Linked DNA regions of Homo sapiens: region 2 is linked to region 1. A link means that fine-mapping ties the variant in region 1 to the expression of a gene that starts in the linked region. Tissue or cell type: whole blood. Region 1 holds a variant in brackets; the other region holds the start of a gene. All regions are shown on one strand. Distances are between the middles of the regions.

Evidence for each region. PIP is the estimated chance that this variant, and not a neighbour inherited with it, causes the effect.
Region 2: AGL starts here. The variant in region 1 is fine-mapped to the expression of AGL in whole blood (INTERVAL, PIP 0.91).

What each region holds. Positions count from the first base shown.
Region 1 is chr1:99,893,635-99,898,757 of GRCh38, forward strand. AGL (amylo-alpha-1,6-glucosidase and 4-alpha-glucanotransferase) reads left to right here. Exons shown (of 34, transcript NM_000642.3): 25 at 2,652-2,754. Among named protein-coding and RNA genes, the nearest start is that of AGL, 46 kb to the left of the region's middle. The variant G/A (reference allele first, on the strand shown) is at 2,735.
Region 2 is chr1:99,847,868-99,853,019 of GRCh38, forward strand. AGL (amylo-alpha-1,6-glucosidase and 4-alpha-glucanotransferase) reads left to right here and starts at 2,494. Exons shown (of 34, transcript NM_000642.3): 1 at 2,494-2,548; 2 at 3,108-3,257. The coding sequence starts at 3,176. RefSeq lists enhancers at 1,640-2,614, 1,815-1,964, 2,615-3,588 and a silencer at 2,145-2,464.

The sequences.
Region 1 (5,123 bases):
ACACTTTAAACGATATACTGATATAAACTGTTACATCTGACATACTTCTCAGGTACGATATAAAACAAATAAAAACTAAAAAATTAAGTTGATAAACAAATACAAATAGAAGTGTGATATTTGCTCCTAGCATCCCAAGGGAATGTTTTGCCTATTCCATACTTGTAAAAAATAGGACTGTATTCAGATTTGCAGATAGGTTTTTTGGGGTTCATTTTAAACTGATTGGGGATGTCTTCCTTTGGTTATAGTATTGCAACAACAGCAATTAAAAACAATGGTTCATACCTGTAATCCCAACACTTTGGAAGGCTGAGGCAGGAGGATCGTTTGGGGCAGGGAGTTCAAGACCAGCCTGAACAACATAGCAAGACCCCATCTTTACCAAAAAAAAAAATTAAAAATTAGCCAGGCATGGTGGTATGTACCTGTAGTCCTAGCTACTCAGGAGGCTGGGGCAGGAGGATCCCTTGAGCCAAGGAGTTTGAGGCTGCAGTGAGCTATGATCACACCACTGCACTGCAGCCTGGGTGACAGAGGAGACCCTGTCTCAAAAAAAAAAAAAAATTTGTAGCCTGTTCTAATAATTGACAAATTAGAAATCACTTAGAAGATATGGAATCTATTAGTTGTGTACTCTTAGAGGTCAAAAAGTTAATACAAACATTTCCATACATAGTGCTAGAGATTTTATAGTTTTGACTTTTTCACAAAGACAGACCGCATATATTTTTGGATATACCGATTCAGACTCACCTTTGAATCTACCTGTATTCATGTTTCATACAAGGAATTAAATGGGTCAGAGTACCAGGAAGTGTGTATGGCACAGAGTGCTATATATATGTTAGCTGCTGTCATCACTATCATCAAAATTAATATCATGTATATATCAACCATATATAAACCATATTAATCATAAATAAATAATACACAGTGTATTTGGGGAAATTTTGTACCGTCATTTTGGAGACAACATAGGTAGGAAAAAGGTCTAATTCTTATCTTTCTTAATGGAAGAAACTAACATCTAATTCCCAATAAACAGAAACTTAAATTGTGAAGTACACTCAGGAATTGCCAAAACTTTCTTTTATCTTAGTCAAATTCTTTCACTTTTCGATCTACATTTTAATATTTGTTTTTTATTTCAGTCATCAAATATTTATAGGTATATATTATATACAGTTACAATTTTCAATGAATACATACTTGTTGGTGAACAAGGTAGATGAGGTTTCTACTCATAGGTCTTATTTCCTACTGGGAAGATATATGCATTCAACAGATAGCAAACAAGATAATTTTCAGATAGCGTTAAGTGCTTTTAAGATAGTTATAAGTGAATGCTGTGTATATTTTATTTGTCCTCAGTTTCCCCTAACCAAAATATGTGTTATATTTATGCTTTGGCATAATTTTTTTTCTTTTGAGACAGAGTTTCGCTCTTTTTGCCCAGGCTGGAGTACAATAGCGTGATCTCGGCTCACTGCAACCTCCGCTTCCTGGGTTCAAGCAATTCTCCTGCCTCAGCCACCCAAGCAGCTGGGATTACAGGCACCCACTACCACGCCTGGCTAATTTTTTGTATTTTTAGTGGAGATGGGGTTTCACCATGTTGGCCAGGATGGTCTCGAATTCCTGACCTTACTGTTTTATAAGAAACCAAACTCAATCTTTAAGTAAAATTTTAGATTGCACCATTAATCATACTATTTTATCTTGTATATAAAACCTCCAATTACCTAGAATGAAGGATTTAATGTGCCAGATAACTTGAAGTGACAAGTAAAATTGTACATATTGTGTACAGAATATAACACTTTTAAGTTGTTTTAAATTAGTGGGAAATTTGATAATGTTGACTCAAGTGCTCAAATGTTGACTCCATATACTTAATTAGGTATCATTAAGGTAATAATTTCATGTTTAGGTTTATTTATTGTCCTTAAGTTCAAGGTAGAGTCTTTTTAAATATATAATTAATATTTAGTGTTTATGTGTTAAATATTTGATCTCTGATTTTACTCTTTAGATTTAATTTATAAAAGAAAGTTTGGCCAGGTACAGTGGCTCCTGCCTGTAATCCTAGCACTTTGGGAAAGCAAGTTGGGCAGATCACTTGAGCTCAGGAGTTCAAGACCAGCCTAGGCAACCTGGCAAAACCTCATTCTCTACAAAAAATACAAAAACTAGCCAGGCATGGTGGTGTCTACCTGTAGTCTCAGCTACTTGGGAGGCTGAGGTGGGAGGATGGCTTGAGCCTGGGAGGTGGAGGTTACAGTGACGCAAGACTGTGCCACTGCACTCCAGCCTGGACAACAGAGCCAGACCCTCTCTCAGAAAGAAGAAAAGTTTATCTGTGTATTCACACCTCAATTTAGATAAGTATCTCTCTATAGCTCTGGTTCTTAATCTTCTTTAGGTCATAGGTTCCTTTAGGAATCTGACAAGATAATGGAATCTCATTTGACAGAAGTTAACATAAGTATAGACATACATTTTGCAAATAATTTTAGAGGGTTTTAGAGGATTTGCAGGTGCCTGCCTTGTACCCCAGGTTTAGAGTAACTGTTCTATAGTAATGGAGTTCATAGGTTTGTGTGTATTATTATGATTAACATATTACTTTGTTGTGTTTTTTTTGTTAGGCTTACCTCATTTTTCTTCTGGTATTTTCCGCTGCTGGGGAAGGGATACTTTTATTGCACTTAGAGGTATACTGCTGATTACT[G/A]GACGCTATGTAGAAGCCAGGTAGGAGAGCCTCTAAAGTGTTGTACTGCGAGTTTATGTCTGAATGTCTTTTACATGCTCTTCAAACTTTCCTTCTTGTCCATCTTTTCTTAACATTTGGGAGCTGTATTTTCTTTAGGTAGTTTTTATTTTATTTTTGTATGTTCACTTAATAGGATCATAAAATTTCAAAGGGGTGAAAATCTTTGAAGTCACTAAGTTCTAGTCCTTCATATTACAAGTCAGGTTATCTTTAGCATTAGCTAATTTATTTCAACAAAACTAAAAATGTTATAACCTTTTTATGCCTTCCATAGTGAAGGCATTGCTAGTTCTTTGTCTGAGTCTTGTAGAAGTCTTGATGTTTCCCTCTATTTGTTGTCAAGCCTTGTAACCTCCAGTTTTATGTTTTCTAGACTTAAAATGGTTTTTTTTGTTTTTGTTTTTTGTTTTTTGTTTTTGAGACAGAGTCTCGCACTGTCGTCCGGGCTGGAGTGCAGCGGCACAGTCTCGGCTCACTGCAACCTCCGACTCCGCCTCCCGGGTTGAAGCCATTCTGCTGCCTCAGCCTCCTGAGTAGCTGAGATTACAGGCGCCCGCCACCACGCCCAGCTAATTTTTGTATTTCTAGTAGAGACGGGGTTTCACCGTGTTGGTCAGGCTGGTCTTGAACTCCCGACCTTGTGATTTGCCTGCCTCGGCCTCCCGAAGTGCTGGGATTACAGGCGTGAGCCACCGTGCCCGGCCGTAAAATGGTATTTTTTTTAATGTCACAATAATATGAATGAACTTATTGGAGGTCGAAAGGAAAGCACTACAGCAGTGCCACTCAAAATGCATTCCACACATCAGTAGTGTCACCCTCACCTGAGAGCTTGTTAGAAATGCAGATTCTTGGACCCTATGCCAAACCTCCCAAATCCAAACCTGGACATAGAGAGAGTAGGGTTGGTGGGCAGAAATCTGTGTTTTCACAAGGTCTCTGGATGATTATCAACAGTCTAAGGCTGAAGTTTGAAAGCACTGCTCTAAAAGATAAAACTTTCAGCAAAAGGGCATTTATACGATACCTTGTTTTGATGCCATCAGGAAAATAACTGAAGTTTGCATCTTTACATGCCAAAATTTTATTTTTGATACTTTTAAAACTGAAGTTTTTAGGTGGGCATCTGAAATGAATTGCATTTTTGTTAATCCGATATATAGTAAGACCTTTTTGTATTACCATTATGGAGCTATAGAAATTTAGGAAGCTGTTTGCTTCTTCCCTAAATGCTCCTGAATTACTGATTTAGAAGAAGGAAATGGAACATCAGCATTCAGCATAGTATAGTGGTTAAGAACTTCGGCTTTACACCAGACTGCCAGCTTCTAATCCTGGTTCCAAACTACCAACTGACAAATTACCTTACTGGGTACTTGGGAGGATCAAATGAACACATACAGTTAAGGTGCCTAGAGTAATATCTGCCACATGCCTAGAGTAATATCTGCCACATGCTAAACAGTTCATAAATGTTAGTTTTTATCATTATTAATGTTTAGGCTCCCAATTATCACCTCTATGCAATATCACAAATTTGTGCTGCTTAATTTTACATAGAACTGTCTAGATTATTGGTTAGCAAACTGTGGCCTATCACCTGTTTTGTATGGCCTATGAGCAAAGAATAGCTTTTACCTTTTTTTTTTTTTTTGAGACGGAGTCTTGCTCTGTCACTCAGGCTGGAGTGCAGTGGCGCAATCTCCGCTCACTGCAAGCTCCGCCTCCCGGGTTCATGCCATTCTTCTGCCTCAGCCTCCTGAGTAGCTGGGACTACAGGCGCCCGCCACCACACCCGGCTAATTTTTTGTATTTTTAGTAGAGACCGGGTTTCACCATGTTAGCCAGGATGGTCTCGATATCCTGACCTTATGATCCGCCTGCCTCATCCTCCCAAAGTGCTGGGATTACAGGCGTGAGCCACTGCGCCCTACCAGAATAGCTTTTACCTTTTTCTTTTTAAAGGGTCATTTAAAAGAAGAAAGCATGTGCAACAGAATTCATATATGTCCCACAAAGCCTAAAATACTTAGTATATGGCCCTTTATAGAAAAGGTTTGCCTACCCCGATCTAGAGGTGATTCCCAGAGAATAATATATTATCCCAGAGGGTATTTGTTAGGGTAGTGCTAGCTGCCATAAATTATAAACACTTAAAATCTTAATGGCTTTTCACAAATAAAATTTATTTCTTGCTTGTAGTCGTAGACGCATGCTCAGTAAGCAGCCTTCTATATACTGATTCAGGGAAGCAGGTTTCTTCCAGCTTGAGGATCTGTCAGTTTCCATGGCTTCTGGGGCCTCTCCAGGAGGCAAGCAGAGAGGGAAAGAGAGCTGGGGGAACACA
Region 2 (5,152 bases), 46 kb before region 1:
AGGAGGTTGAGGCTGCAGTGAGCCATGATTGCACCACTGCACTTCAGCCTGGGTGACAATGAGACCCTGTCTCAAAAAGTAAAATAAAATAAAGTAACTTTTTCTATTGGTTATATGTTGAAATGATGCCTTGGATATATTAAGTAAATTATATTGCTAAAATTAATATTACCTTTTTCAAAACTTTCTTTTCTTTTCTTTTTTTTTTTTTTTTTTTTTTGAGACAGTCTCGCTCTGTCACCCAGGCTGAAGTGCAGTGACATGATCTGGGTTCACTGCAACTTCCACCTCCCAGGTTGAAGCGATTCTCCTGCCTCAGCCTCCACAGTAGTTGGGACTACAGGCATGTGCCACCATGCCTGGCTAATTTTTGTATTTAAAAAAGTTTTTTTAATGTGGCTACTTGAAAATTTTAAATGACCTATGTGGCACTTAATATTTCTATTGGACAGTGCTTTCTGCTCATTCAGGCCAAAAACCTTGGAGTCATCCTTGACTCCTTTCTCCACCAATCCTGTAGGTTCTATCTTCAAAATAGTCCAGAATTCAGCAACTACACCACCTGCTATACCACCTCCCCCCCATCACCCCCAACCCCCCGACACAGAGAAAACACACACAAGTCACTTTCTCTTGCTTGAATAACTAAAATAGCTTTCTAACTGGTCTCCTTGCTTCCTTCCTTGCTACACTCTACAGTTTATTCAACTATTTCCCATAAAGTTGCGGAGCGATCCTTTTAAAAGGTCAATCAGATTATGTCACTCCTCTGTTCAAAATCTCCATGGCTTTTTTTCCAAAGTTTAAAAGCCCAAGTCCTTGCAATGGCCTACAAAGCCTTAAAAGATCTGGTCACCCGTCTGTGCTCCTGATCCCTTCTCCTGCCCCATCTGTCTGTCCTAATCTCTTACCACTCTCTTCTTCACTCAGCTATGGTGATCTTCTTCGGTTCACCAAGTATGCTCCTGCCTCATGGCCTTTGTACTTCCTATACCTCTACATGTAACCCTCTACCTTAGACTTCTTCTTTCTCGCAGTTTGGCATCACTTTACTGAACGTTATATTTAGAAATGCAAACCTCTCTCTGCTTACTCTTCCACACTTCCCCCTTCCTATTATATATAGGATATAACATATCCTTCTTATTATATAGGATATATTATATCCTGTATAATTTATTTAATTTATCTGTCTCCCACCAATAAAATGTAGGAGTTCCTTGAGGGCAGTGACTGTTTTATTGCTGCATTCCCAGCACCTTATGTGCCTGGCAAATAGTAGGGGCCAGAAAATGAGCTGTGGGTTCCCAAAGTCAGTTACGGACCATTTGCAACTAGCCATTCTCAGAAATCTACAGAAATAAACAAATACTTCAGTATGGGGTTTTTTTTTTTAACTTATATCCTCTTTGGACCTACAGTCATTCCACAATAAAGAATGCAAGAATCTTCTCCACACGCCACAAGTCTTAGTTAACCAAATCTTCTGTCCATTTTCTCATAACCATTAGGAGCCCTCCAAAAGCCCTGGAAGATGGGTTTTCCTTTACCCTCAGGCATTAAATCTCCTTAAGCATCTGCAAAAAGTTCTGAGTTACTGGCCTAACATAAGTGCAGCTTAATCTCAGACGATCTCCGGGTCTATCTAGTGTACATGAGGTACACCCGGACACCGTTAAGTATCAGTGGTGTTTGCACTCTCGATGGTTTGCAGACTGGCCACACCTTACCTACTGGGTCTGCATTCAGGAACATGTGTCCTGTCTGTTAGCACTAGAAGTGATGGACACGTGTTGGCTGGAATGTCAAGGCTGTAGCCAGGCCCCTTATTTTAGACACTTAGAAATCAGGACTCTGAGAACTTAGGCCAAGTAAAAATTATCAAAACAAAGAAACAAAACACGTGGTGGCACAAAAGACACCAGAAGCCAGGTCGTTTGCCCCTCACCATTCAGCCCTTCCCAGCAAAAGATCCTACTGTGCAGCTCAACCTAGCTCGCAGCCGGTACCGCGGGATTTTAATGTGCAACTGTGAGCTCGCAGGCTGTTAAAGGAAGGCCGCGCCTTGGCCGGTGCACCTTCCCCAGGGCAAGGAGAAAGCGCCGCTCCCGGCCTCAGCCGCAGCAGGCTCCAGGTCCCCCGGCCCGGAGCCGACTGAGACGGTGCGGTGCCCACGCTCTCGCGAGACTAGCGGTCGGGGCGGGCGGGTCGAGCCTCCCGGAAGTGGGCCAGAGGTACGGTCCGCTCCCACCTGGGGCGAGTGCGCGCACGGCCAGGTTGGGTACCGGGTGCGCCCAGGAACCCGCGCGAGGCGAAGTCGCTGAGACTCTGCCTGCTTCTCACCCAGCTGCCTCGGCGCTGCCCCGGTCGCTCGCCGCCCCTCCCTTTGCCCTTCACGGCGCCCGGCCCTCCTTGGGCTGCGGCTTCTGTGCGAGGCTGGGCAGCCAGCCCTTCCCCTTCTGTTTCTCCCCGTCCCCTCCCCCCGACCGTAGCACCAGAGTCGCGGGTCCTGCAGTGCCCCAGAAGCCGCACGTATAACTCCCTCGGCGTAAGTGCTAGGAATGCCGCTGGCCTCGCGGGGAAACGCATTCTTTCTATCTATAGCTCGCTCTGTACATCTTCTGTCTACGGCAGCTATTCCAGAGGCAACAACTGCTTCCCTCTGTTCTCATCTCCCCATTGGTGGCTGGCGACCCGAATTTGGGAATGGGGAGATTGCCCACCTGTTATCTTTGAGCAGACTAATCTCTTGTAAGCAGAAGTGCCATTCGGAGTCTCCAGAGCCCTGTGGCTTGGGGCTGGGAATGTCCCCCTGACTTCAGGCTTTCCTAAGTGTATTGCTTTTCTCTGAGAATGGTCTAGGTTTTTAATTTTTTAATTGTAAGAATCTGTAATACAGCATTTTTATTTCGGTCTTATTCGTTGTGCTCAAAGGCAGGAAACAACTATTAATTTGCCTTCTCGAATCTTAATAGTTATAAGATTCATTCTCTTTCATTGCTCTGCTAGGCATAAAACACACTTCGAACATGTAAGTGCCGCTGTCAGCTCTGGAGAGTTTAAGGCAATAGTTATTTTCGATATTTTAACTCCTTTTTGTTTCATAGGGGTAACTCATTCGACTGTGGAGTTCTTTTAATTCTTATGAAAGATTTCAAATCCTCTAGAAGCCAAAATGGGACACAGTAAACAGATTCGAATTTTACTTCTGAACGAAATGGAGAAACTGGAAAAGACCCTCTTCAGACTTGAACAAGGTCAGTAGCAAGTTGTTTTGATTTGCTCATTTGCGTCTTTTAAACTTTTAATTCATTGGCAGTCCTGTTAAATGTTTTAAAGCTCTAAGATAAATATTATTTCCAAGGGTCTAAAACTTGATTTGTGCAAAGATGGTGCTGTGTTCTCCATATATCACTAATTAATGTTGATTTGAATTAAAAATATTTTATATCCCTCGTGTTAGGATAAGGATAAAATAGTTCTCTTTTCTCTGCGTACTAATTCCCACTTAAGATTGAAGTTAAATATATGATCAGAAGATTGCCCATATTATTTCTAATAACATTTACTATTAAAACTTGGTAAATTACTTCATATGTAATTTTGCTTTGGGTATGCATGTAGTTTTGCCTTTGTATAACTGTCTCTTTTCCTTTGTTGAACCTTTGAATTGACAAAATAGATTGCAGCAAAAAGTATAGTAAACTATTGTTTATGTATATCAAAAACTTCTCAAATGTGGAGTAGGTAAAAGCTGAAAATATTTTCTTAGCAAATAAAAAGTGCAATAACTCATCTGGTTATGTTGAACTATATATAGTTGATCTGTATTTAAAAGATCAAATTACTTTTCTACAAGGCTAGTTAATAGATGTTTTATTTTCTTAGCCTTTGTAATTTTTCAACATTGAAGAAGTGTAATATATGAAAAATCCAGTCCCCCTTATTAATGTACCAAATGGATGTTGCTAGTCATAAACATTTCAAAGGAATTTTTAAATTTCGCTAATGTTTTAAGAATTAAATTTTTGAAAAAAATTTCACACATACAATGTGATATCTTCATGCCAAATCCGCGCCTTTTTCCAACTTTGGCATTTAAAATCACTGAGTACCTACTCCATTTTTGGCTTTCCTGACTCTGCACTTTTCTGGTTTTGATTTTTTTTTCCCCCTCCCCTGTTGCATATTCTTGTCAACTTGGTGTCTCTTACTAGGCTCTCTTCCTTTCACTTTTTAATTAATTATGGGTATCTGCTAGGAATTCTTTTTCTGTTCTCCTTCAAAGAATTAGTTACACAGTCTCATGGCCTCAACTGTTGCCTCTGTGCTAATGACTACTTTTGGAGGAAAAGCCTTGAGCTTTCTTCTTCTTGGAAGCTTTCAGCATTTGATGACGGGTAGATCTAGAGCCAGAATTCTCCTGGCTCTGCTGCTAACAAGCTGACTTGGGGCAAGTTACATTAATTCTGAGCATTCATTTCTTTTTTTTTTTTTTTTTTTTTCCTTTTCTCTTTTTCTGAGACAGGGTCTTACTCTGTTGCCCAAGCTGAGTGTTGTGGCATGATCATGGCTCAGTGCTGCCTCAACTTCCTGGGCTCAAGCAGTTCTCCTGCCTCAGCCTCCCAAGTAGCTGGGACTGCAGGCATACATCACTATGCCCCGCTAATTTTTTTTTTTTTTTTTTTTGTAGAAACTGGGTCTCACTATGTTGCCCAGGTTGATATTGAACTCCTGGACTCAAGCAACCCTCCCTCTTTGGCCTCTGAAAGTACTGGGATTACAAGCATAAGCCACCGGGCATGGCCCCAATTCTGAGCATTAATTTATTTATTGGTGAGATGAAAGTGGTAATTTCTGTTCTTCTACCTTTCTAGGTTTTGAGACTCAAAATTAATAATACATGAATTTTTTGTGATAAAGCCCTAAATAAATATAAGGCATTGATATGAATCACTCCATGTATTCCCACCCTGGACCTTGGCTTCAACCTGATATTATGCAATAGAATAGTATTAGGATAGCTCAACTTGGATATGCTTAAATCTAGCATGTCCAAAAATATCCCCTGCCCATTCTCGATCCTTTATTTCTCAGCTTCCCTGTTTATTTCGTGGCATCTCCATTTTTATAGTTCCCAGGGTAGAAACCT